7 linked regions of the Homo sapiens genome follow. The protein of the gene in region 4 interacts with the protein of the main gene of each other region in a biochemical or structural test. Each region holds a gene or a part of one and is shown on either strand. Other genes may lie near its edges. The genes, in order: DCUN1D4, RHOU, UBE2L3, CUL5, RBX1, DEPTOR and ASB9.

Region 1 (3,500 bases), on a different chromosome or scaffold from region 4:
CTCTTAGACGAGAAATTTGCCATGTGTCTATTTAAAAATACAGTATCCCTGTATGAAGATTCATAAATAAAATCCAGAACCAATGATTTTTAAATCTTCCCCACTAAAATCAGAAACATAGTAAAACAATACAAGTACATAAAAAGCAAAGAGAGTTGAGTCAATGGTTTTGAGGATGCAAACACAAGAAAAGCTGAAATGAGAGGAATACTGTCTTTTTTAAAGAAAAATGCAAACTAATGTAAGAGAGAGAACAAAGCACAGACTACAAGTTTAACTTTCTAAGCAGGTAAAAGCAAAAACCAGTCCTGAAACAGTTGATGATGCACCTGGAATTACACAAAGTCAGATTTCCTCCAGGCCAGGTCTTCCAGCTTAAGACTCTTTACACACAGGTGTAAATCCAGCTAAACTCTCTGAGAACAGGGAACTATTTCTATTTATTTTTCCAAATAATGCTAACTCATCTCAAGGGATTGTCAGAGAAATTAGAACAGACCATATGTCAACATGGACTATTTTGGGTAAACAGATACTTACGTAAAACTAGTTTTTAAATTTTTGAGGAGTCCCACTTAGTAATGTTAAAAGAAATTTTTAATAACAGTTCTCAAAGAATCCTATCAGATATTAAAAATATTCTGGACCATTACATAAAGTAAGTTGTGAGAAAGATTATTCAAGAGTGAAGCCAGAGTCATCTTACGGCCCAGCATTTTCTCAAAGACCCAACACCCTCATCCTTGCAAGCAAAGGACACTTTTTAGAAGGGCTTGGGGCAGGAGGGAAAGGAGGATGCCATATATGACAACCCAAGTAACTCAAACTTGTATCCCATATACTTCCAGGTCCCACAGAATGACACTTCAACAAAACCAGTAGCTCAGAATTTCTGATCATCAATACTTAAAAGCACACAAACAATGATGGAATAAAGTGCTGGATTGTTCTGATACTGATCTGAAGACAATTTAAACTGAAGGAGATATTGTCAGTCTGCCTAATACTTAGATTGATCTAAGGTCCTCAAGTTACTTGGTGACAAGAGTAGATAAGAACATACTACAAACTAATTTTGGTAAGAAGGCAGATGACTGTCTTTTAAACCTCTGCTTAATAAAAGTGGAAGTTCATCTAAAGTCAAAAGAAAGTAAATCTTCTTTTTCTATTGTTACAAAGAACAGAAAATCTAAACAAAAGTGAAGCTTTAAAATGGGGATGAGAAAAGAGAGAAAAGGACAGAGCTGTGGCTGTTTCGGATGCATTTTTAATGTGGAATGAAGCAACACAACATTAAACGCATACACAGATGCACTCCAAGAAGATAGGTAGCTGCTGACTGACAGCAATTATGTCACCGTAATTCCTACATAGGCAGAAAAGTACAACAAACAAAAAATTACATACAACGGGTGAATAAAGTTATTTGGTAGTTCCAAGCAAGCAAACATACATTTCATAAAACAACAATTTGGTACCTCTAAGAATTGGTGAAAAACTGGAAAAAGGGGCCAGATTTTTCCTAATAACAGTCCCAACATGCACTTGGCAGTGTTTATGTCTAGGCTGCGCTGGTCCTTTTCCTGTTTAACAAACAAAAACAAGGATGAGCCAGATGCCCCCAAATAATAAATTCCAATAATTGCAAATGTGTATTCACTTCAACAGGAAATTAGTAAACAGCTCATTTATCATACACCTTAAAGACCCTGCATCCAGACTAAGGTTAGGGAGGGGAGGTAGTCAAACACAATGGAAGGCTTGGGCATTACGATATTATATAAATTTACTGTGAGAAAGATTTATGTCAACTGAATGATCACCCTAATGCAAAATCAATTAGTTATGTCGTAGCAGTTTCTACAGGCTTTTCATGGGATTAATAAAAACTTGTAACTCAATCACTTGCTTGTTTGATATTTATGATAATTATCAAAATCCTAATTGTTGACCATAAAGCCTATAACTCAACGGAGCTTAAAGGTTTTGATGCCTATGATTAGGAATCAGGTTTCCTTAATAAAAACGAAATCAATTTGATTTCATTGATAAATATTTTTCTTGAACCTAAACATGCTGGAATTGACTTCAGCTCATACCAAATGCTGGGGCTCTGAAGTGTCTCTCTAAATCAGAGGATAGATTCATCTACCCACTCTGGTGGAAGGCAGGAAGTCTATCAATACAGTCCTTCAATAGACAGATAGATAGATAGATTTCTTAGACGTAAATTTCCTAGTAAAATACTCCTAACTAGTAACCAAGTGAAAGACAACATTTCATAAGGACACCAGAAAAAAAGATAAGAACATAAACCTAAATAAGGGCAGGGTAAGCTCATTCCACTTACATTTGCAATTAAGGATCCTAATTTCTCATTTCCGTCTTTCTTATATGCTTCCATTCCAGAACTACAAGCGGTCAGTTTCCATGGAAAGGAATAGAGGGCCTGGGACCATAAGCATACCTTACATATCCAAAGCTAGCCTCCATGTGTTATCTTAACTACAGTGGAAATTTGTAAAAGTAGTTTTTTACAAAGGGAGAAAGTGCCTGGCTAGCCCAGTGCAGTGGAATCTAAATGTTCAAATTAAGGGATGATGCTGTGACCACCACCCTAAGCCACATATGCAGCCATATATACCTCCTGATAAAATAAATCATCACTGCAAGGACGCTTAACAGTGAGGTACTCTTTAGTATACAAACCATTTCTAGCCATGACCCTGAATTGGGACTTAATACAGCAAATGTAAGGGCCTCACTTAACAACAACAATCAAGGTAGATGAAGACAAGGAAACTTGTTGCCTAAGGAAGATGTGCAATAGATCTGGCCTTTTGGTCTCAGTTGTGAAGTGTAACGACTGTCCATGAATAGACCAGGTCAGATGGCTCCACATCACCCTTCTTTCAGAGGTCACATAACTTAAGTCTGATGAGGGCAGGTGTATCCCAGTTCCACAGTTCTATGCAAACAGGTGGGACCTCCTTTCCACAGGGTTCTCTGCCTGTCCCTTGGCCATATGTATTGTCCTGCTCAGGGCTGCAGTACGCACTCCCAATGGAGAAGAGGACAGGAGAAGAGGTGATCTAGAGACTGCCTGCCTTTTGCCAGACAAACTGCATTGGTTTGTTGTGTTTCAAGGGCTTACACTTCTGTGATGACACTGTGCAAGCAAATGGAAAACTTCCTCTTACCCTGTAACACAGGTGTGGCAGACGGCAACAGCACACCATACTATGAAGCAATCCACAAGATAAACGAGTAAACTGTTGAGAAACACACGCGGCACCACAGGACTCGGCCAAAGTCCATTTGTTGAACAACAGCTTATGCAGCACTGGGCTGACAACACTGGCGCTCTGGAAGAGTTTTCCCTTTGCAGAGTTTGTAATCATTCACTAAACCCCAAATCTCTAGTCTTGCTGTGATATATATTGTGCCTTCTTCCACCATCATCAATACCTATGTCCCCGTCACAATGGACATACACTAAG
Region 2 (3,500 bases), on a different chromosome or scaffold from region 4:
AGTATAACCTGATCTTTTACTTTTTCTATAGAAAAACACAAACTGGATTTCTTTTTAACATAAAAAAGACAACACAAAACCCACAGAAAAATAAAATTCTTCTATCTAACTGGCTTTACAGATTTCCCTCATTAGTTGTGGATGTGACTTTGGTGGCTCTGGGTCACCCACCGCAAGCCCGACCCTGCAACTGAGTGTTCAGGCTGCCTTGTGGTGTCTCGGAAGCATTCCTACCAGAGTAAAAGCTATTCTCCTGAGATGGCACCTTTTTCTCCAGAAGATTCAGCCCTAACAGCTGCCACCTTGAAGGATGTATTTCACTGTCACAGGAAGCAGCCAAGTATGGGGGCCATGGTCCCGGCATGCACCTGGCTGGCTACACGCCCCGCCCCTCAGGAGTCCTCAGAGTCCACTGGCCTCTGCTGCTACTGCCCTGAAAGCCATCTGTGGCTTTAACTGGTTGTTTTAACAGGTTTCAAGAGATGTTCATTTTATTTTTTGTTTAGATTTAAGATGTCCTAAAAAATGTATATATTAAGATACACTTAAAAACATACTCTGAATATAATAAAAAAGATGTTGGTTCAAAAAAGGGTCAACAAGAAGAGGAAGCCAAGCTTCCTAGCATCTGTTTTTGTGGCCACGCTTTTCCCCATTAATGGTGTGAAAGTCTGAATCAACAGCAAATACAGCCATACAGACCTATGTATCTGTGTGCATGAGTGTGCATGGGTGTGCACACAGAGAAGTACATCTTGGCCGACTTAAGAAAAAATTATCTGTGTTGTGTCCCACAAACACTTGCTGTTGGCCTTTCAAGAGTATTCACCTCCCTGCCGAAGAGACAGCTTGAGTATGGAGGTTTAAAAACAATCCAGACAGGTGCTCCCTGTTGCCCTCGTTACCTAGGATTGAGGCAGTTTGGTGCACGTATTACAGTACCGAAAGCAAATGTCACTTTCTGATCTCCACAGGAACCACTCCCTAAAACATGAAACTACTGACCAACACTTGCTTTCCTCCGCATAGCACTTTGTCTGTGTTCATATGTGTCAACACAACTGGACTAAGAAAGAAAAGTCCCAATAAGGAAGTTTCCTTTTTTGACTACAGAGTGCCATACAGTCAGTGGGATGTTTTCTGTTGGTTGTTTTTAAATCATAAGTAACTGGGTATTAGCAATTGACAAAAGTGACTGGTTTGAGGTTTTGTAGGCAGAGGTCTCTCACTTTTTTTCTCAGATTTTTGCTCCTTAAAAAAAAGGCATGGTTTGCATGGAGTTTCAAAGCTAAGAACTATTGTTACCATGGTTGACCTGTGTACATAATGCACTGTGCATTAAGTAGCCCTTAATCAAGAGAGGGTTAACCATAGTGTTCCTCCCTTTTGCTCTTCTGTACATTATAATGTAGCAGAACTTCATTCTTAACATCCAGATTAGAGGTGTCTTCTTCATATTAGATATAAATTAACCAGAGGTCTAGAACTCTAAATTTCCAGAGATGTGAAAAATGTTTAATTTACTTCAAAAATATCTTGCATAAGTATCTCATCCCTAAGCTCAAACAAACAAGAAAATTAAAGGCAGAAAGAATACATAAAATTGAGAGCTCCTCCTATAATACATATACACACACTCTCGATATAGGTTCTACGCAGTAAAAGGAGTTGTTTCAGCTAATATAGCTTCTAATATCGATTTCATCTGAAAATAGCCTTTCTGGGTGTCTTGCCAGCATCATACGAAACAGCAGTACTTCTTCCACCAGGACTTGGAGAGGTTTTTCATTTTATCTGGAGTCCTGCTTTTAGACTTCTTTGGCTGTTGCTGAGTGTCCGAGTATTGAATGCCAGCGACGATGGCTGCATCAAAGACCTCTTTGAGGTTTTTTTGAGTCAAGGCTGAACACTCGATGTAGGAGGCGGCTTTGATTTCCTCGGCGCACAGCTTAGCCGCCTCTTCAGGCACTGGCTTTTCTTTGCATTTGTCCAACTCAATGAGGACTTTGACATCTTCTCTGAGATCCGACTGCGTTCCAACTAGGATGATGGGGGCTTTGGGACAGTGGCATCGAATCTCCGGCACCCATTTCTCACTGACGTTCTGGAAGGATGAGGGGCTCACGACACTGAAGCAGAGCAGGAAGATGTCTGTGTTGGTGTAGCAGAGAGGCCTCAGCTTGTCAAATTCATCCTGCAACCAAGCAAAGTACCCAAAAGTTATGTTTTCATGAATTCTCATCAGTAAAAAGATCACCTTCACATTTTTCATGAAAGGGTCTGGCAGGTGATAGAAGACCCGCTGGTTCTAGAAGGAAGAGCCAGCATCCTTGAAACGATCCTACTGTTTACCCAAGCGGGGCCAGTGCACCAGCGAAGGTGTGGCAGCCATCTGCTTTCAGGGCCAGCTATGGTCTGAACACTGCCAAACATGTTCAACGTGTTCATCGACACTCAAGACCTACTTACAGCTTAACATAGAAAAAGTGCTCAAAGTAGGTGGGTTCTAGAAATAAAATGGACTTAAGCCTTCAGCTGAGTGTAACCCAAACCTACTCTCAACTCTTGGTACTTAGCTACTCTTCTAAAATTCAGACCACACCCATATTGATCCTCAAGACTCCCACTCAAACCCAGTCTACGAACACAGCTCCTCTCTTTATCAATCCAGCCCTGCCTTTCCCAACAGCTCTGAGTGATGCCAATTTCATCCCATCTGCACTGTGCACACGCTCTGCCCACACTATGCACAGCAACGCAGAGTAATGCTAATCAGACTCAAGGCCAGACCAGAAATGGAGTTGAGGACCTTTGTCAGTCCATTGTCATCGTGACTCAGAAAACTTTTGCAGCTCAGTGCCACTTACAGACACTAGTTAATACATCCTCATTCTGGCTGTATCTTCTCTTCCTCCCTCCTTCCTTCATTTTCTCCTACTTCCTTTATCCTTGCCAGTACCCATGGCCTCCATGTACAGTGCTTTGGACAGATAAGAACTGGAGAATAGGCACGCCCACCCTACCCTTAAAGTATAGAGAAGTGGATAGAATAAGTTAGAGTTGATTACAAATAAACCAACGGTTGTGCTGCCAATGCTCTCCCGTGGTCATCCATTTAACAGACACACTGAACATCACCTACACTCAAGGCACAGTGGCAGGCGAGGGGATTTGGCTGTGAACAGACAGATGTTGTTCTCCAAATTACCATTTCTTTACAGAAAACATCCTATAGTTCCCTGTAGCACCATATTCAGCTAACTGACAACTTTTGCTCAACTCTTTTGTAGAAAAATATTTACTCTTTCCTATGTAAAATGTATATCTGTTGGTGCCAACCATCCTCAGGTATAAATAATTTCCCAATGACAAGAAAAAGTTCAACGCCATTCATGTTTTTCATTACTCAATTGACACACTCCGATTATTTACCAAGTACCATTTACATCACATTATACTCCATCCGTGGCTTTTTTCTCTTGGTATAAAAGAAACCTGTA
Region 3 (3,500 bases), on a different chromosome or scaffold from region 4:
TATTATTATTTTAATAAAATAGAGACGGGGTCCTGCTATATTGCCCAAGCTGGTTTTGAACTCCTAGGCTCAATCGATCCTTCCACCCCAGCCTCCCAACATGCTGGGAATATAGGTGTGAGCCACTGCACCCAGCCCCCATCTCTATTTATTTAAAAAAAAAAAAAAAAAAGGAAAGGGAAAGGGAGAAGGAAAGGGAACTAGAAATCAATAACAGAACTAGAAAACTCACAATTATGGGGAAATTAAACGTACTCTCTAACAAGCAATGGGTCAAAGAAGAAATCACAAGGGAAATTAGAAAATATCCTCAGAAAAAAAAATGACATACCAAAACTTAAGTTATGCAGCAAAAGTAGTGCTCAAAGGGAATCTACAGCTTTAAATACCTACATTGAAAAAGCAAGTCTGAAATCAATAATCTAACTGGATATTTTAAGGAACAAAGAAAGTAATAACACAAGAAAGAAGTAAATAGTAAGCACAGAGGAGATAAATGAAAAACACACACACACACATTAATGAAACCTTCCTTGAAGAGATCAACAAAATTGAAAAAACTTTAGCTAGACTGATAAAAGGAAAAAGAGAAAAGACTCATATTATTAAAATAAGAAATGAGGCAGGGCATAGTGGTGTAATCCCAGCACTTTGGGAGGCTAAGGCAGGCGGATCACTTGAGTCTAGGAGTTCAAGACCAGCCTGTGCAATATGGCAAAACCCCATCTCTACAAAAAAAAAAAAAAAAATACAAAAATTAGCTGGGCGTGGTGGCTCATGCCTTCAGTACCAGCTACTCTGGAGGCTGAGGTGGGAGGATCGCTTGAGCCTGGGAGGTTGAGGCTGTGGTGAGCCATGATCATGCCACTGTACTCCAGCCTGGGCAACAGAACGAGAGCCTGTCTCAAAAAAAAAAAAAAAAAAAAAAAAAAAAAAAATCTACATATAAATGGATCAAAGATCCAAATTTAAGAGCTAAAACTATAAAACTCTTAGAAGAAAACTCAGGAAAATTTGCATGACCTTGGATTTGGCAACAGTGTCTTAAAAATCAAACCAAAGTATAGGCAACAAAATTAAAAATAGATAAATTGGACTTCTTTATTAAAAATTTAAGGCCAGGTGTGATGGCTCACATCTGTAAATCCCAGAGCTTTCAGAGGCTAAGCCAGGAGGACCACTTGAGCCTGGGAGTTCAAGACTAGCCTGGGCAACACAGCAAGACTCCATCTCTACAGAAAAAATAATTAAAATTAGCTGGGGGTTGCAGCATGTGCCTATAGTGCCAGCTACTTGGGAAGACTGCTTGAGCCCAGGAGTCTGGGGCTGCAGAGAGCCATTATTGAGCCACTGCACTCCAGCCTGGATGACAGAGCAAGACCCCTTCTCTAAAAATAAAAATTAAATTAAAAAATTTAAAACTTTAGTGCATCAGGCCAGGCACGGTGGCTCAAGCCTGTAATCCCAGCACTTTGGTAGGCTGAGGCGGACAGATCACTTGAGGTCAGGAGTTCGAGACCAGCCTGGCCAACATGGTAAAACCCTGTCTCTACCAAAAAATACAAAAATTAGCCAGGTGTGGTGGTGCACGCCTATAGTCCCAGCTACTCGGGAGGCTGAGGTGGGAGAATCACTTGAACCCGGGAGGCAGAGGTTGCAGTGAGACGAGACTGTGCTTCTGCATTCTGGCCTGGGCAACAGAGTGAGACCCTGTCTCAAAAAGAAACAAAAAAACAAAAAACACACCATGCAAAAACATGTTCTACATCCTTAGTATGAAGAAAACAGAAATCAAAACCACAATGAGACAGCACTACATACCAACTAGAATGGCTGTAACGTAAAAACAAAAAAAAAGTAAAATAACAAATGTTAGCAAGGATGTGGATGAACTGGAACCTTTGTAGTGGAAATTTAAGACGTTACAGGATGGGCGCAATGGCTTATGCCTATAATCCCAGCACTTTGAGAGGCTGAGATGGGTGGATCACCTGAGGTCGGGAGTTCGAGACCAGCCTGACCAACATGGAGAAACCCAGTCTCTACTAAAAGTACAAAAATTAGCCAAAATTGCTTGAACCCGGGAGATGGAGGTTGCAGAGAGCCGAGATCGCATAACTGCACTCCCCAGCCTGGGCAACAGAGCAAGGCTCTGTCTCAAAAACAAGAACAAAAATTAGCTGGGCATGGTGGTGCACACCTGCAATCCCAGCTACTCGGGAGGCTGATGTATAAGCATCACTTGAACCCAGGAGGCTGAGGTTGCAGTGAACCAAAATCACACCATTGCACTCCAGCCTGGGTGACAGAGTAAGACTGTCTCAAAAAATAAAATAAAATGGAATAAAATAAAAAGAAATTGGCTGGGTGTGGTGGCACACACCTGTAGTCCTGGCTACTCAGGAGGATTGCTTGAGCCCAGAAATTCAAGGCTGCAATGGGCCATGATCACACCACTGCACCCTAGCCTGGGTGACAGCACAAAACCCTGCCTCAAAAAACCAAAACATTATTATGAAGTTATGAAATGGTTTATTAAAAACTGCATGAAGGCCAGCGTGGTGGCTCACGCTTGTAATCCCAGCACTTTGGGAGACTGAGGAGGGTGGATCACAAGGTCAAGAGACTGAGACCATCCTGGCCAACATGGTGAAACCCCGTCTTTACTAAAAATACAAAAATTAGCGGGGTGTGGTGGTGCGCACCTGTAGTCCCAGCTACTTGGGAGGCTGAGGCAGGAGAATCGCTTGAACCCGGGAGGCGGAGGTTGCAGTGAGCCGAGATCGTGCCACTGCATAGCGACAGAGCGAGACTCCAACTCAATTAAAAAGAAAAAAAAGAAACTGCATGAAAAAAGGCTGAGAGGAAGTATGCTGAAGGTTAAGAGTAAACACATTCACTGGGCTAGAAGCTTCAAGAAGGGTGACTACCACACCTCTAGTTCCTAAAGGGCAGTACACAAAATGTAACTGAATTTCTTGATGATGTGATTATGGGTAATATTTTCTTCCTTAGACGTTACCTTAGCATCTTAGATGAAAAAAAATTACAGAAAAACAAATGTTTAAAGGGAATAGACCAGAGTTGCGTTGGCAACAATGAAGTCTCTAGGAAGTACCTCCCCAGCCTTCCCTCCCACCTGCCCTCCTCTGTGCACTACGACCAGGGCAATCGCTAGGTGGCTACCCAAGGACAGCACCACTCTCCACTAAGGACCAGGGCTGGGCTGCCATGCCTTCATCGGCCTGGCTCTACTTTTACCCCAACTGGGCAGACCTCAGGTGAGTTTGTATAGTAGATTCCCATGCTGGCCCAGCCCGTCCAATGCAGGAAGACCTAAAGCCCAGGTTGGGGTACAAGTGTGGACCCTGGGGATGTCAGATGTCAACAATGCCTTAACTGCTCTGGAGAAGGAAGAAGACTTCATTGAAACATTCCTCATACAAACCCAGGGGCCCTGGAAGAAAGCAAGGGAGAGGACCGAGAAGAAGTGGTATACA
Region 4 (3,500 bases):
GACTTCACACCACGCCCACCATGTCTATACTCCCTTAACTCCTTTCCTACTTTACCTACTTATTTGTTTTATTTTTATTTATTTATTTTTTGAGACAGAGTTTCGCTCTTGTTGCCCAGGCTGGAGTGCAATGGCACGATCTCAGCTCACCACAACCTCCACCTCCTGGGTTCAAGCAATTCTCCTGCCTCAGTCTCCTAAGTAGCTGGAATTACACGCATGTACCACCACGTCCAGCTAATTTTTCGTATTTTTAGTAGAGATGGGGTTTCTCCATGTTGATCAGGCTGATCTCGAACTCCCGACCTCAGGTGATCCACCCGCCCTGGCCTCCCAAAGTGCTGGTTACAGGCGTGAGCCACTGCACCTGGCCTATTTACTTGTTTTAAAATAGACAAAAAGAGTCTGGGCACAGTAGCTCAGGCCTGTAATCCCAGCACTTTGGGAGGCCGAGGCGGGCCCATCACCTGAGGTCAGGAGTTCGAGACCAGCCTGGCCAACACAGTGAAACCCCGTCTGTAGTAAAAATACAAAAATTAGCCGGGCATGGTGGTTGGTCCCTGTAATCCCAGCTACTCGAGAGGCTGAGGCAGGAGAATCGCTTGAACCTGGGAGGCAGAAGTTGCAGTGAGCCAAGATCATGCCATTGCACTCAAGCCTGGGCAACAAGAGCGAAACTCAGTCTCAAAAAAAAAAAAAAAAAAAAATTAAAATAGACAAAAAGAGTGAGAAAAAAATCCTACTGGAGAATGGAGAAAGTTGTCTTTTTAGAATCATTCAAACTTGGGAAGTAACGAAAGGTAGTCAAAGAAGAGAAAAAACTAACAGCAATTTCTTGTTATAGGTTTATTACACTAAAAAAGATACAATGCTAAGGACAGTATGGTGTTTTATTATCATTATCCTATACTAGTGAGGATGGAAAAAGATGGTATGCAATACAAATGCTTCCCTGGGAAACAAGGATAAGTATAACATAACTCCCGAAGGAGTCCCATGAAAGGACGGAGGATGGAGGAATCAACTCTGCTGGTGATGAGCTGTGGAGGGAGGCAGGACATCAAGGAAGCTCCAGGGGAAGTATTCTTTGAGCTGGGTCTTAATGGAAGGATGAATAGGAATTCAATAGATCAGTAATATTCAAAAACAGAAAAACATTCTTGGAAAAATGAGAAAAAAGCAACTTTCTAACTAAATTCTAATTCACAAGGCTATCTAATGTTTAACAAATGCTTACAGCCAAGACAAAACGAATATAGTTGTTCTCCACTGATGAAAAATAACAGTTGCTAGGTTTTTAAGTTTATAATTAATAGAAAAATAATGCAAATTGATTATTAGAAGTAAATTATGAGAATAAAACTTTTAAAAGTGTTTTTTATATATATAGGAATATATACCTTATCTCTTGCAGTAAGAAATCGTGGATCATCTTGAAAAGCTTCTTTGACGAGTTTACTAAATCTATTAAATAGTGTAAGTAACTGCTCAACGTATTTCTCAGAGTCCTAGAAACAAAAGGTTTTACATTAAGTTTTTAAAAGAAAAAGAATAACACAAAAAAATGAGAAAATAAACATAATTTTAATAAAACTCATTTAAAACTGGGGATATTTTTTCTTAAAAATAAAACTAAAAGGTGTTCCAATATTACTGTTTTGCCACTTCTTTTTTCTTTCTTCCTTTTTTTTTTTTTGAGACGGAGTCTCGATCTGTCGCCCAGGCTGGAGTGCAGTGGCACCTTCTCGGCTCACTGCAAGCTCCACTTCCTGGGTTCACGCCATTCTCCTGCCTCACCCTCCCAAGTAGCTGGGACTATAGGCGCCCGCCACCCCGCCTGGCTATTTTTTTTGTATTTTTAGTAGAGAGGGGTTTCACCATGTTAGCCAGGATAGTCTCGATCTCCTGACCTTGTGATCTGCCCACCTCGGCCTCCCAAAGTGCTGGGATTACAGGCGTGAGCCACCTTGCCCAGCTCCCTGTTTTACAGAGAAAATAGTAATTTCAATTACTATTTTCAATTTTCAATTCTGTATTTTTAAAAATTTAATGTTTTTATTTGTAATCAACACATAATGGTACATATTATGGGGTACAATGTTATATTTCAATGCATGTATATACTATAATGATCAAATTGGGGTAACTACTATATCCATCACTTCAAACATTTATAATTTCTTTGTGGTAACAACATAAAAAATCTCTTCTATCTTGAAATATACACTACATTGTTACTTGCTATATCCGCCCTAATGGGTAATAGAACACCAAAACTTATTCTTCCTATTGAACTATAACTTTATACCCCACTAACCAACCTCTTCTGCTCCCCCAACCCCCAGCCTCTGGTAACCGCTCACTATTTTCAATAATCCTACATTTAAAAAATAGCCTTGATATATATCTATCATTGCCATTGAAAAAAAACTTACAGTAGTAATAGTTTCAGCAGCTGCTACCATATCTGCCAGGCCAGCACTAATGATATGTTCCTCCAAGTCTTTCAACATTGGCTCTATACCATTAGGAACTTTGTCCATCAATGAAAACATTAAATGTAATTCTGGAAGGAGAGAACACATTCATGTAATCATTTCATTTACTAGAGTAAGAGTTTAGAGAAACATTAGTTAAGTTTGTAATGTTAATAGTATTCTGTGGATACAATGCCATTAGGAGTAGTTGTTCGTTTTTTTGTTGTTGTTTTTTTGTTTTTGAGACAGGGTCCCAGTCTGTCACCCAAGCTGGAGTACAGTGGCTCGATCACGGCTCACTGCAGCCTTGACCTCTTGGGCGCAAGCAATCCTCCCATCTCAGCCTCCTGAGTAGCTGGGACCACAGGCACATGTCACCATGCCTGGCTAATGTTTTTTGTAATTTTGTAGAGACAGGGTCTCCCAATGTTGCCCAAGCTGGTCTCAAACTTCGGGGCTCACACAATCCTCTCGCCTTGGTCTCTCAAAGTGCTGGGATCATAGGTATGAGCCACTGTACTTAGTCTAAAAATTATGTTTAAAAAAAAATCGAATTAAAAGTGATCAGGCTGGGTGTGGTGGTTCACGCTTGTAACTCCAGCACTTTGGGAGGCCAAGGTGGGAGGATCATTTGAGCCCAGGAGTTAAAAAGACCAGTCAGGGCAACATGGCAAAACCCATCGTTACACAAAAACAAACAAACAAAATTAGCTGGGTGTGGTGGTGCATGTCTTTGGTCCCAGATACTTGGGAGGCTGAAGTGTGAGGAATGCCTAAGCCCAGGAGGCTGAGGCTGCAGTGAGCCGTGATTGCACCATTGCACTCAGCCTGGGTGACAGGGCAAGACGGTCTCAAAAAATAAAAATAAAAAAAGTGATCAAATACTGCAAAACCCAACTCCTTTCTTTAAAAGGTCAGTCATTTGGCCAGAAGCAGTGGAGATCAGCCTGGGCAACAAGGTGGGGCTCTGCCTCTACAAAAAATACAAAAATTAGCCAGGCATGGTGGTACACGGCTGTAGTC
Region 5 (3,500 bases), on a different chromosome or scaffold from region 4:
GGCTCACACCTGTAATCCCAGCACTTTGGGAGACCGAGGCAGGCAGATCAGTTGAGATCAGGAGTTCAAGACCAGCCTGGCCAACATGGTGAAACCCAATCTCTACGAAAAATACAAAAATTAGCTGTGCATGGTGGCACACACTTGTAATCCCAGCCACTTGCTAGGCTGAGGTGGGAGGATCGCTTGAATCTGGGAGGTGGACGTTGCAGTGAGCCAAGATAGCACCACTGCACTCCAGCCTGGGCAACAAAGCGAGACTCCGTCTCAAAAAAAAAAAAAAAAAAAAAAAGGTTGGGAAACCCTAGGCTGCAAATGTCTAATGTTGGCTAATCCTTTGTGCATTTTCCATATAGATAAGTCCTAGCTTAAGTAACCAAAAACTAGTTTTAAAAAAAACAAGGCATGTATCATGTCTCCATCCCCCAAGACCACGCTCCTTTCAGCCTGAGGCAAGTCAAAAAGCCCCGTCAAAACAACCAAAGATACCTACTTTTGGAATTCCCACTCTCTGTTGTCCAATGGACACACCTGTCGTGTTTTGAGCCAGCGAGAGATGCAGTGGAAGTGAAAAGCATGCTGAAAGAAAACATATATTTTATTAAAAATAACTCTATGCAGGCTCAGCCATCGAGCGACAACAGGTCCCACAGGGTAGTGGCATGGGTGACATATAGTGGGCAAGAAAAGAAAAGAAGACAACGAGAGGCAAAAGTTCAACAACTGATTATATCTTGGTTAGATGCAAGGGTATTTCCAACAAAGCATTTGTTAGAAATGTCATTACTACTAAAGGAAATCATTCAGGAAGCACAGGAGTATGTGCCAGCACTGAGCTCTCTTCTATTTAAGAGAACGTGGAATGTGGCTCCTTGGTCCCATTCAGCCTGTAAGGGGATACTTCCACTTTCTTTGGGAAAGGAGGCCCCTCATCAATGCAGATTTCAAATATCCCCATTCTGGGTCTCTAGCTTCCCTCCCACCCTCCTGCCCCTGGAGAATGCGACCTGTAGGAGCAGAGCCTTCTCCCCAGCCCTTGGTAGAGAAGTGCATGGTCACTGCCGCCCACCCAGAACTGAGACGGGCACTTCCCCAACCTCCCCACACCCAGCTCAGCTCTGGTCAAAGAAACTTTATTTCTAGATTTATTCACAGACATATTGATATTACAAGAGCTCAGTACTTCACGTGCCTTTAATGGGTGAGGGACTTTGTCTTAGGGAATGAGATAAAAGAAAATTGGGGTAAAAGGAAGTATTCTTATGAGGGACAAACGGCACACAAGCAGCCTAAAGAGCATCAAAAGGCTTATTTCATAATCAAGACAAGAAGTAAAAAGACAAGAGTATCAAGAACACTGGTAACTGACAGGGAGCTAGAAGTCTGCTTAGATTTGGGAAAAGGACAATCTGCATGCAGTTTTTTGGCGTGGGCTCATGACATGCAGATGCTAATCACAATGCTTCTGCAATGAGCACTTCTCCCCCTGCTCATGTGCGTATTAGGACAGACGCAGCAAGTGCTTCCTTCATTTCGTCTGTGATTGGTGCACTGTGGTGGGGCACGGGCAGAAATTACTCACCCTAACAAAACAACAAAAGCTTTACAAGCTTCATTTAATAACAACTGAAATCTGGTCGGTACGTCTCCCAAAGTATGTATGGAACTTAAGGGATTATATAATATGGATTATTATCTTGTGAAATGTTTTTTGACAAAGACAAAAATATAATTCAGTAACTAAGAGTGGAATCCACAGCTAGTACACTAGGGATACCCAAGAGGACAAATATTCTCTTAGAGTGACAGCCTTTTGGAAGATCCCTTTTCAGCTGACTCTTGTATAACTCACTGTGAAAAAGAGAAAGAGCAAAATTTCCAAAAGGCAGAAAGCAGAGACATTTTTCTTAACCATCAGGTGTTGGGGTCGGGCTCACCGAAGGGTATTCGACAGCTTCTCCCTCTCCCACCTCACCCACTGAGCACTTTGCAGCAGTACGGTGTCCTGGTAGAGCCCAACTAAGTCAGAGCATACCACGCGCTGGGGAAAAGGGGGCTGTAAAGGAGGTGTCAGGGAGGTGACAGCACCCCTGAACATTTACTAAGATGTATTAATGGATATATTTAGCGGTCAAAGTACAATTTACAGAAGATAAATTTATAGTACTTGACAGTTTACAGAAGATGTTGACATGTATTACCTCATTTGAGGCCTCACATCAACCCTGGCAGGCAAGCATGACAGATATTTTTATCTTCATTTTACAGACAGGAAACTGAAACCCAGACAAGTGACTTGCCTAATTCATGGAGCTGGTTTGTAGAAGACCCAGAACTAGAACCCAGGACTAATCCAGAGCCTTCTGCCACACCATGCTGGCTCTCTTCTACGGCAGGCTCTCTCAGAGAATCTCTCCTTAGCCAAATTTAAGGGGATGTTCACTCTCTTTTCTTTCCACATAAAGGAACATGGTTCTTAGTATATGTCTGTATGCCAGAAAGGGCAAAGAGCCCAATATACTTCCTTTATCCCCATGAACGATTAAAGCTCCCCCATGGCCAACATGGTCTATTGTGAGCCTGGCCAAAGGGTCCCAACAAAGATGGAAGAAGGTGTACCCGAAAGTGCGGGTAGGGGCTGGGCACGGTGGCTCACGCCTGTAATCCCAGCACTTTGGGAGGCCGAGGCTGGCAGATCGCCCCAAGGTCAGGAGTTTAAGACCAGCCTGGCCAACATGGCGAAACCCCATCTCTACTAAAAATACAAAAATTAGCTGGGTGTGGTGGTACACACCTGTAATCCCAGCTACTCGGAAGGCTGAAGCAGGACAATCACTTGAACCCAGGAGATAAAGGTTGCAGTAAGCCGGGACTGCGTCACTGCGCTCCAGCCTGGGCCACATAGTGAGACTCCGTCTCAAAAAAAAAACAAAAAACAAAAAACAAAAAAAAAAACAAAAAACCAGTGTAGGTAGGAAAAAGAGTTGCAACCCAACAGGAAAAACTACTGAGAACACCATCTACACAGTAACACCTCTACCTCAAATTTGTATTTATTTAGATTTTTTTTTTTTTGAGACAGAGTCTCACTTTGTCACCCAGGCTGGAGTGCAGTGGTGTGGTCTCGGCTCACTACAAGCTCCACCTCCCAGGTTCACGCCATTCTCCTGCCTCAGCCTCCCGAGTAGCTGGGACTACAGGCGCCTGCCACCACACCCGGCTAATTTTTTGTATTTTTAGTAGAGACGGGGTTTCACTGTGTTAGCCAGGATGTCTCCATCTGCTGACCTCATGATGCACCCGCCTCGGCCTCCCAGAGTGCTGGGATTACAGGCGTGAGCCACCGCGTCCGGCCTATTTAGATTTTTTTTAACAAGCACTTGTGCTTACTATGTGCCGGGAGTTGTTTAATCACATTTTAACATAAATCATCTAATCCGGATTACAATTTTATGTGGTCCACTATCAGCCCCATTTTATGAGGGAACCCAGGATTGGAG
Region 6 (3,500 bases), on a different chromosome or scaffold from region 4:
TGCATGTACCCACTGCTTTCTGCCATGAGTAATAATGCTAGTGAACTTTTCTGAGTACTCAACATATGCTAGAGAGGCACCATGTGAGGTGAATATATTAACTCACTTAATCATCACAAGAATGAATGAGTTAGGATCATTGTTATCCCCATTTTATAACTGCAAAAACAACCTTAGAAAAGTTAAATTGATTGTGTCCAAGGTCCCAGAGCGAATGGGTGGCAGAAGTAGAATCAAACTCAGGCATTAGACACCAGCACCCACACTCTCAGCTACTGTGCCACATTTACTCTGGGCCATGCTGTCCTGCAAGCAAAAGAAAGGGTCTAGAAGCTCAGGAAGATAGTGGCATGCTGTCCTCCTGAGACACCCGTTCACATCAGCTCACTGCTGTTGCCCACCAAGATGGCAGACAGCAGCCAATTCCTGACTTGCGGCTGCCTAAAACCCACCGATAATGAACCCCCCCATCCATCCTGTGCTCACTAAGAACTGGAGAGGGGCTGTCGTATCCTCCCCAAGTAGCCAGGGGGTCAGGGGACAGAGACCATTCTAATCCAGCTCTGCAGACATTGTGAACTTGAAGTGCCACAGAGAAACAGAAAAGGCCCCAGCCAAGGGGCCTAACCTGGTGAGGTGGCATCCTCCGATCCCCTTTGCTAGTGACAGTCAGAGGCCAGGTACCAGTCCTGGAAAGAGTGTGCAGCAGACAAGGAAAGGCAGCGTGGGGCAAGGCGTGATGATCTACCAGGCAGCTGGACCTCGCCCACTGGTTACATGAACGGCCTTCTGGCCTGAGAAGCACCCTCTCAGTGAAAGGCAATCCAGTGCTTCTTGTTGAGGTGACAGGTTGCTGATCTTATCACCTTTGCTTTCAGAAATCTCATAAAAGCAAAAATTAATTTATGTTCGCCAAACAAGAGGGAGTAGGTCAAATATCAAGATGGAAACAGAATCTCTCAGCAGATGGATGGGAGGTAAGAAAAGTGGTCAGTATTTGAGGACTGAGATCTTTTTTATTCCCTGTCAGGTAACTCTCTCTCCACTCCCCATAAACCCTCAGGGGGCTTATGAATTTGGATACATGAATCACACTGTACTATTTGGCAGCAGAGCTGACCATTCATTTTAATGCACTTCTCTTTATTATGTTGAAAAATATAGAAACTTTGAGGCCTAGGGAAAACTTTTTTCTTTTCATATCCTTGGAAGCTTATTTGCTTATCACAATGATACTGATAACATCAATATCTTTAGTACTGTTTTTTGTGTCTGGCTTAGGGCATTTATATACAGTACTAAAAAAACATATCCTGGTGTATTTCAGATAATTAATTTTTAAATGCATCACTGTGAAGGCCTGATCATCTGCTTGAGAAAAAAAAATCACAGATGAACTCACTGGGTCTTGGGAATCCTCTTAAGAGTGAGAGAGAAGCTTGTCAAACTATGGGTAAGAAGTGGAATTTACAAACCACAACTCAGTCCTGACAGCTCTTGTCCTTGGGGACCCACGAAAGGAAACGAGACCTTTTTCTTCTGCCTGCATAACAGTAAACTCTTCCCTTTGACCCAGAGGCAAGGAGAAAGAGGAAACATGCTAACCTACCTCAGGGAACATGGATTTTGTTGCTAATTTCAGTAATTAACACTTTTTTCATACTCCATCATAAGCAATCAAAAACTTGTAAAATGGTTATGGCACCACTGACCCTTTTATTGAAACTGAGATCTTTTGCTTTTAACTTTGAGGATGCCTGTCAGATTTCTACAAAGGCTTCAAACATCCCATTTCTAAGAATTCAGTTCTCCTTTTTCATTCTACTTTAGCAGCAAGCTCCAGTAATTGAAAAACCCAGTACTCAACGACTCTTCAGCCAGGACAGTATGGAAGCAAGCTTCTTCATTCACTTACAGGTTACATTTATTCCTGCTGCTAACACTCCAGAAGGCAGCAAAAAAAGAAAAAAAGTTAGATCAGGAAAAAGAGCCACCTTCCTAGATAATACCATTAGATGACAGAGTTTTCTCTCAAAGCCTTTTGAACTGCATCAATTAGTGCTTATTCTTACTAACATGAAATGTTTTGTTTTTTTCTCCAAAGAGGTGGTGTTTTCATTGAGTTGGGGGTTATGACCTGTCATCTTTGTATCCCCAAGATCTGATGATGAGGAAACAACATGAACAAAAGGAACAGAGCCTCTTCCTCGAAGGTGACAAACTGAACTGGGGGTGGACAGTGCCTTAAACAAATGGGTTTGAGAGTGTTCTCTGGCGGTTACTGTAGTGATGGACCACACATCCTCATCCTGGCAAGTGAGGACATTAGGTGGGTAAGGGATGGTGAGAAAGGGTAGTTTCAATGGATTACCAGTTCCTGGGTGGTTGATGAACTGATTGGGTGGAGGAAGGATTGTTTCTAAGTACATGTTCACCAACAATTTTGTGCCTAGATTTTTTTCCTGGAATATAAAGGCCATGGAGGTTGATGAGCAGATTTTGAAACCACAAGACACCCAGGGTCAATTCCAGGGATAGCTGGGTTTGCACACATCCATGCTTCTTCCTTAAGGGTGTTGGGCCCCAACAGATCTTATGCATCGGCTGCATTCTGGGGAAGTGCTGTTTCCCCTGCTGTGAGCACTGTCACATACTGCCCAAAACACCCTTCAGGGCTCAGGGACTTCTCCCAGCTCCGAGAGTGCTAATGGTGACAGCCCTCAGCTGTCTTGGAGACCATCTCTCTGAAGACACCTGCTTTGCCCAAGGTCATGCCCTCCTCCCAGGGGCAGCCAATACCTAATAAGTGGCCAACATGTGGATCTAAAGGCCCAGCCCCCTCAACACAACTCCAGGCAACTTGGAAGGGCCATCCCAGCTCCAGAGGTCTTACTGGGTCAATGATAGCCTTCATTGAGACTGGGCTACAACCCAATTTCTCCTTCAGCCCAATTCTTCCTTCCCTTCCATTCAACACGTGTGGACCCCAAGAGCATGCTCTAACTTATTAGAACCCACACACTAGTCTCCCGCTATCTCAGATTCTGCTTCCCAGGGACCTGCCCAAGTCCCCACAGTCTTAGGAGCGGGGCCACCTTTTGGGCACTCACCGGACTTGGGGTTGCAGAGCACAGGGGGGCTGCTGCTGAGGGTGGGGCTGCTGCTGAAGTAGCCGCTGCTGCCACAGCTGCTCATGCTGCTTCTCCTCACTGCAGACACGATCTTGATCTCCTTGCTGGGGCTCACTGTGTAGGCCAGAGAACACACACAGTCACCAAGGGGGTGGTCTCGGCTCACTAGAGCACATAGGCTTTCAACTGCAAGGTCCAGAGGGGCCAGGAGAAAGCACACTGGTCTTAGTGGCAGAAAAACAAGAACTTGAGTTGCAGCTCTGCCACTTACTTTATATTATATATATATATATATATATTTTTTTTTTTTTTTTGAGATGGAGTCTTGCCCTGTTGCACAGGCTGGAGTACGTGACACAACCTGGGCTC
Region 7 (3,500 bases), on a different chromosome or scaffold from region 4:
TGGCTAACACGGTGAAACCCCATCTCTACTAAAAATACAAAAAATTAGCCGGGCGAGGTGGGGGACACCTGTAGTCCCAGCTACTCGGGAGGCTGAGGCAGGAGAATGGCGTGAACCCCAGGGGGCGGAGCCTGCAGTGAGCCGAGATGGCGCCACTGCACTCCAGCCTGGGCGACAGCAAGACTCCGTCTCAAAAAAAAAAAAAAAAAAAGAAAGAAAAAAATGTGCCAACTTTTGTCGTGATCAAAGAAAAGAATATGTCATTTCTTACTTTACTATTCATACCTAAGACTTAAATGTCCAATTGGCAGGAGAAAATATCTTATTTTCTCACAGTCATCACACTTATAGAAAGTAGCTTTGTCAATGCCACAAGAGGGGTATGATTGTCACATGAAGCAAAAATCATGCAAGTGTATCAGACACAAGTTGGGGGAAGGCAGGCCGAGGTACAGAACTTGGGCAAAAGGCAACCATAAAAACAACCAATAGGAAAATGTGCATACTCCTCCAGGCACAACTGCCATTGTAAAACCGGCATTTAGACCAGGCACGGTGGCTCATGCCTATAATCCCAGCACTTTGGGAGGCTAAGGCTGATGGATTATCTGAGGTCAGCAGTTTGAGACCAGCCTGACCAACATGGTGAAACCTCGTCTCTACTAAAAATATAAAATTAGCGGGGCGTGGTGGCACATGCCTGTAGTCCCAGCTACTCGGGAGGCTGAGGCAGAATTGCTTCAACCCAGGAGGCGGAGGTTGCAGTGAGCCGAGATCGCGCCACTGCACTCCAGATGGCAACAAGAGTGAAACTCCATCTCAAAAAAATAATAATAATAATAATAATAATGATAAAAATAAAACCAGCATTTAGGTGTTTATACATAAATCCACGTAAATGAAATACAACAACACAGCTATTCGTAACACAAAAAGTTTTCACCACATATTCACATTGCAGAGAGGTTCCTTCTGTAAAGTTAGAAACTCATTTGTAGTTCATCATCAAGCTACAGTTCTACCTTAAATTAACTGTGATTTGTCTAAATTATTAACAAGTCTGAGTCATATAAAATCATAAGGTAATTAACCCATTACTTCACAGTGTTCAGTCCACAGTCAGTTCTTAGTTTTTAAAAAAAGATTGAATGGCTTAACTTTAATATATCTATTTTCAGTCGTCAACTACGCTTAGTTGACAAAATGTACTTCTCTTGAGCCTTGACTTTGGATGTGGTCATGTGACTTGACCAGTGGGATGTTAGCAGATGTGACATGAACAGATTGGAAGTATTCTTGCATGGTGGGGCTTGTCCTGCTGTGCTCCAGCGTTTTGCCAAGAAAAAATAATTCCTCAGGTAGCCAGTGGTCCAAGCAGGATGAAAGAGATGTGCAGCAGGGCTACACCCAACCCACAGCTGGGAGCCAAGCCCAGCCAAGCCCAGCCTAGATGAACTGACACAAACACACATCAGCAAGAAATAATGGTTACTGTATCATGTCACTGAGTTTTGGGATGGTTTGTTATTGAGTTATGGGGTGGACTGACCTAGGTAGGTATTAGAATACTCATTTTATGAAAGCAGAAACCGGGGCTCTAAAAAGACATCTTACACAAATAATGTGATAGAACTTGGAGATATGGTTCTGGCTGATGTTTCATAAACACATAAATACTGAATGTAAATGAGTATCTGTCCAATTTAAGAAGTGATATATAAAAGCTGCAGTGATCATTTTTCATGCTATCAAAATAGGGTAAATTTCTAATTTTATCTGAGAAGTAGCCTAACTTCTTTTAGCTAGAATTAGTGTTATAATCTATTTATAATAGACTGCTGCTACCAAAAATGGCTTAAGATAGTGGCTTAGGATAGTATGAAATTTTTCTTTAGAAATTATTTTCTTATAGGAGGACTTCTTACTCTAGATAGGTCTATGAAATTGGATTTTTTAAAGCACATTTATTCTCACTCAGCTCTATCTGAAATTTAGCATTTCCTTCAGTTCAGAATGTAGACAACAAACCACAGTAGTAATAGTATTATGTAGGGTTATCTCCAATAGAAATTACAGATATTTTCTATTGTATTACAATTGCTGTAGACATCTAAAATATCTCAAAATCTATACTCATCCTATTTAGACGTTATGGTAGTTACTAGAATCACCACTAGGTCTTCTATTTAATGAATTAATTTAAAAGTCCCTATGTTATTATGTCACACATTTGTTTTAATATTTTGATAGGTTTCTTCTGTATTGTATTTTCAAAAAGCTACCTGGCTGATGAGGTTCCTCAGAGACAGCTGATGTCCGTGGATTGCAGCTTCATGCATAGGAGACCAATCAGACACAGCATCTGTATGGAAAGAGGGGAATGGGTTATATCCTGCTAATGCACTTAGACCCAGAGGCTTATCCTTGCCCATCAATAAGAGCCTAACAGGCCCTGGATGGAGGGAGACATTGGATTCACTCAACCAAAATTCCCATCAGGAATTCAGCATTTCTCTTCTTTATTAATATTTTTTGTGCACAGTTTGTTTGAAATGTCTGGATAGCTTGGGAAAGAACTACAGCCAGTCCTCAAACTAAGGACAAAAGAGGTGGATTGGGATGACAGATTACTCTATTTCTATTTACACACTGGTTTCAAAGGCAAATGGCCCATTTAGTTAAGCGAGAGCTTCACTAATTACCAACATTAGTGTGTTAAGCTGTAGCTGTCAGTCTAGTTTCCTGCATGAAATACAGACTTTGGCATCTCACCAAACAGTGTTCTGTATTAATAGTAGTAATCATGTAATTACATACACCATTAGGTTTGGAATCAAATCTAAACAGAACCATATCTATTTATAGATTATCTCCTGTCCTAATATTAAGCACAAATCAGTGTTCAGTCTCACCTTGAAACAGGGACATTATTTACCCTCAAAGGCAGCATGCCAAGGTGGTTAAAGAAAGCTCTTAATTCAGACCCGCTTCACCTTTTCTGACCTGTGGGTCCCGGGAAAGGCCCAGTGCCGCAGTTTCCTTCTCTGTAAAGTTACAAGTTGAGCAGCCCTAATATATAACATACAGGTTGAGCATCCTTAACCCAAAACTCCCAAATCCAAAATGCTCCAAAATCCAAAGCTTCTTGAGTGCTAACATGATGCCACAAGTGGAAAATTCCACATCTGACATGTGATGGGTTGCAGTCAAAACGTTGTTTCATGCACAAACTTATTTAAAATATTATATAAAATTATCTCAGGTTATGTGTGTAAGGTGTATATAAAACATAAATGCATTTCGTGTTTAGACTTGAGTACCATCCACAAGATAAGTCATTATGTATATGCAAATATTCCAACATCTGAAAAAACTGGAAACACTTCTGGTCCCAAGGATTTCAGAGACGGGATGCTCAACCTGTACTTACCATGGCTCAACACATACTAGCTACTATTATTATCCTGCCCTAACACTAAACAGAGAGTCTTAATTATACC

Evidence for each region.
Region 1: the proteins of CUL5 (region 4) and DCUN1D4 form a complex in vitro, tested with the Homo sapiens proteins (one study listed by BioGRID).
Region 2: the proteins of CUL5 (region 4) and RHOU form a complex in vitro, tested with the Homo sapiens proteins (one study listed by BioGRID).
Region 3: the proteins of CUL5 (region 4) and UBE2L3 form a complex in vitro, tested with the Homo sapiens proteins (one study listed by BioGRID).
Region 5: the proteins of CUL5 (region 4) and RBX1 form a complex in vitro, tested with the Homo sapiens proteins (4 studies listed by BioGRID and IntAct, with this or other methods).
Region 6: of the proteins of CUL5 (region 4) and DEPTOR, one has a biochemical effect on the other in vitro, tested with the Homo sapiens proteins (one study listed by BioGRID).
Region 7: the proteins of CUL5 (region 4) and ASB9 are reported together in a solved structure, tested with the Homo sapiens proteins (one study listed by BioGRID).

What each region holds. Positions count from the first base shown.
Region 1 is NC_000004.12:51,909,153-51,912,652, reverse strand, and holds part of DCUN1D4 (DCN1-like protein 4), read right to left. Parts: intron 3,496-3,500; exon of another isoform or gene 3,201-3,495; intron 1,584-3,200; coding exon 1,479-1,583; intron 1-1,478. UniProt on the Homo sapiens protein: Contributes to the neddylation of all cullins by transferring NEDD8 from N-terminally acetylated NEDD8-conjugating E2s enzyme to different cullin C-terminal domain-RBX complexes which are necessary for the activation of cullin-RING E3 ubiquitin ligases (CRLs).
Region 2 is NC_000001.11:228,741,979-228,745,478, reverse strand, and holds part of RHOU (rho-related GTP-binding protein RhoU), read right to left. Parts: intron 2,195-3,500; coding exon 1,739-2,194; 3' UTR 1-1,738. UniProt on the Homo sapiens protein: Binds to and activates protein kinase PAK1. Plays a role in the regulation of cell morphology, cytoskeletal organization and focal adhesion assembly during cell migration. Also stimulates quiescent cells to reenter the cell cycle.
Region 3 is NC_000022.11:21,595,214-21,598,713, reverse strand, and holds part of UBE2L3 (ubiquitin-conjugating enzyme E2 L3), read right to left. Parts: intron 1-3,500. UniProt on the Homo sapiens protein: Ubiquitin-conjugating enzyme E2 that specifically acts with HECT-type and RBR family E3 ubiquitin-protein ligases.
Region 4 is NC_000011.10:108,071,398-108,074,897, reverse strand, and holds part of CUL5 (cullin-5), read right to left. Parts: intron 2,567-3,500; coding exon 2,436-2,566; intron 1,509-2,435; coding exon 1,401-1,508; intron 1,099-1,400; coding exon of another isoform or gene 1,021-1,098; exon of another isoform or gene 832-1,020; intron 1-831. UniProt on the Homo sapiens protein: Core component of multiple cullin-5-RING E3 ubiquitin-protein ligase complexes (ECS complexes, also named CRL5 complexes), which mediate the ubiquitination and subsequent proteasomal degradation of target proteins.
Region 5 is NC_000022.11:40,964,878-40,968,377, reverse strand, and holds part of RBX1 (E3 ubiquitin-protein ligase RBX1), read right to left. Parts: intron 580-3,500; coding exon 494-579; intron 1-493. UniProt on the Homo sapiens protein: E3 ubiquitin ligase component of multiple cullin-RING-based E3 ubiquitin-protein ligase (CRLs) complexes which mediate the ubiquitination and subsequent proteasomal degradation of target proteins, including proteins involved in cell cycle progression, signal transduction, transcription and transcription-coupled nucleotide excision repair.
Region 6 is NC_000008.11:120,002,722-120,006,221, reverse strand, and holds part of DEPTOR (DEP domain-containing mTOR-interacting protein), read right to left. Parts: intron 3,246-3,500; coding exon 3,111-3,245; intron 1-3,110. UniProt on the Homo sapiens protein: Negative regulator of the mTORC1 and mTORC2 complexes: inhibits the protein kinase activity of MTOR, thereby inactivating both complexes. DEPTOR inhibits mTORC1 and mTORC2 to induce autophagy.
Region 7 is NC_000023.11:15,256,584-15,260,083, forward strand, and holds part of ASB9 (ankyrin repeat and SOCS box protein 9), read right to left. Parts: intron 2,363-3,500; coding exon 2,283-2,362; intron 1-2,282. UniProt on the Homo sapiens protein: Substrate-recognition component of a cullin-5-RING E3 ubiquitin-protein ligase complex (ECS complex, also named CRL5 complex), which mediates the ubiquitination and subsequent proteasomal degradation of target proteins.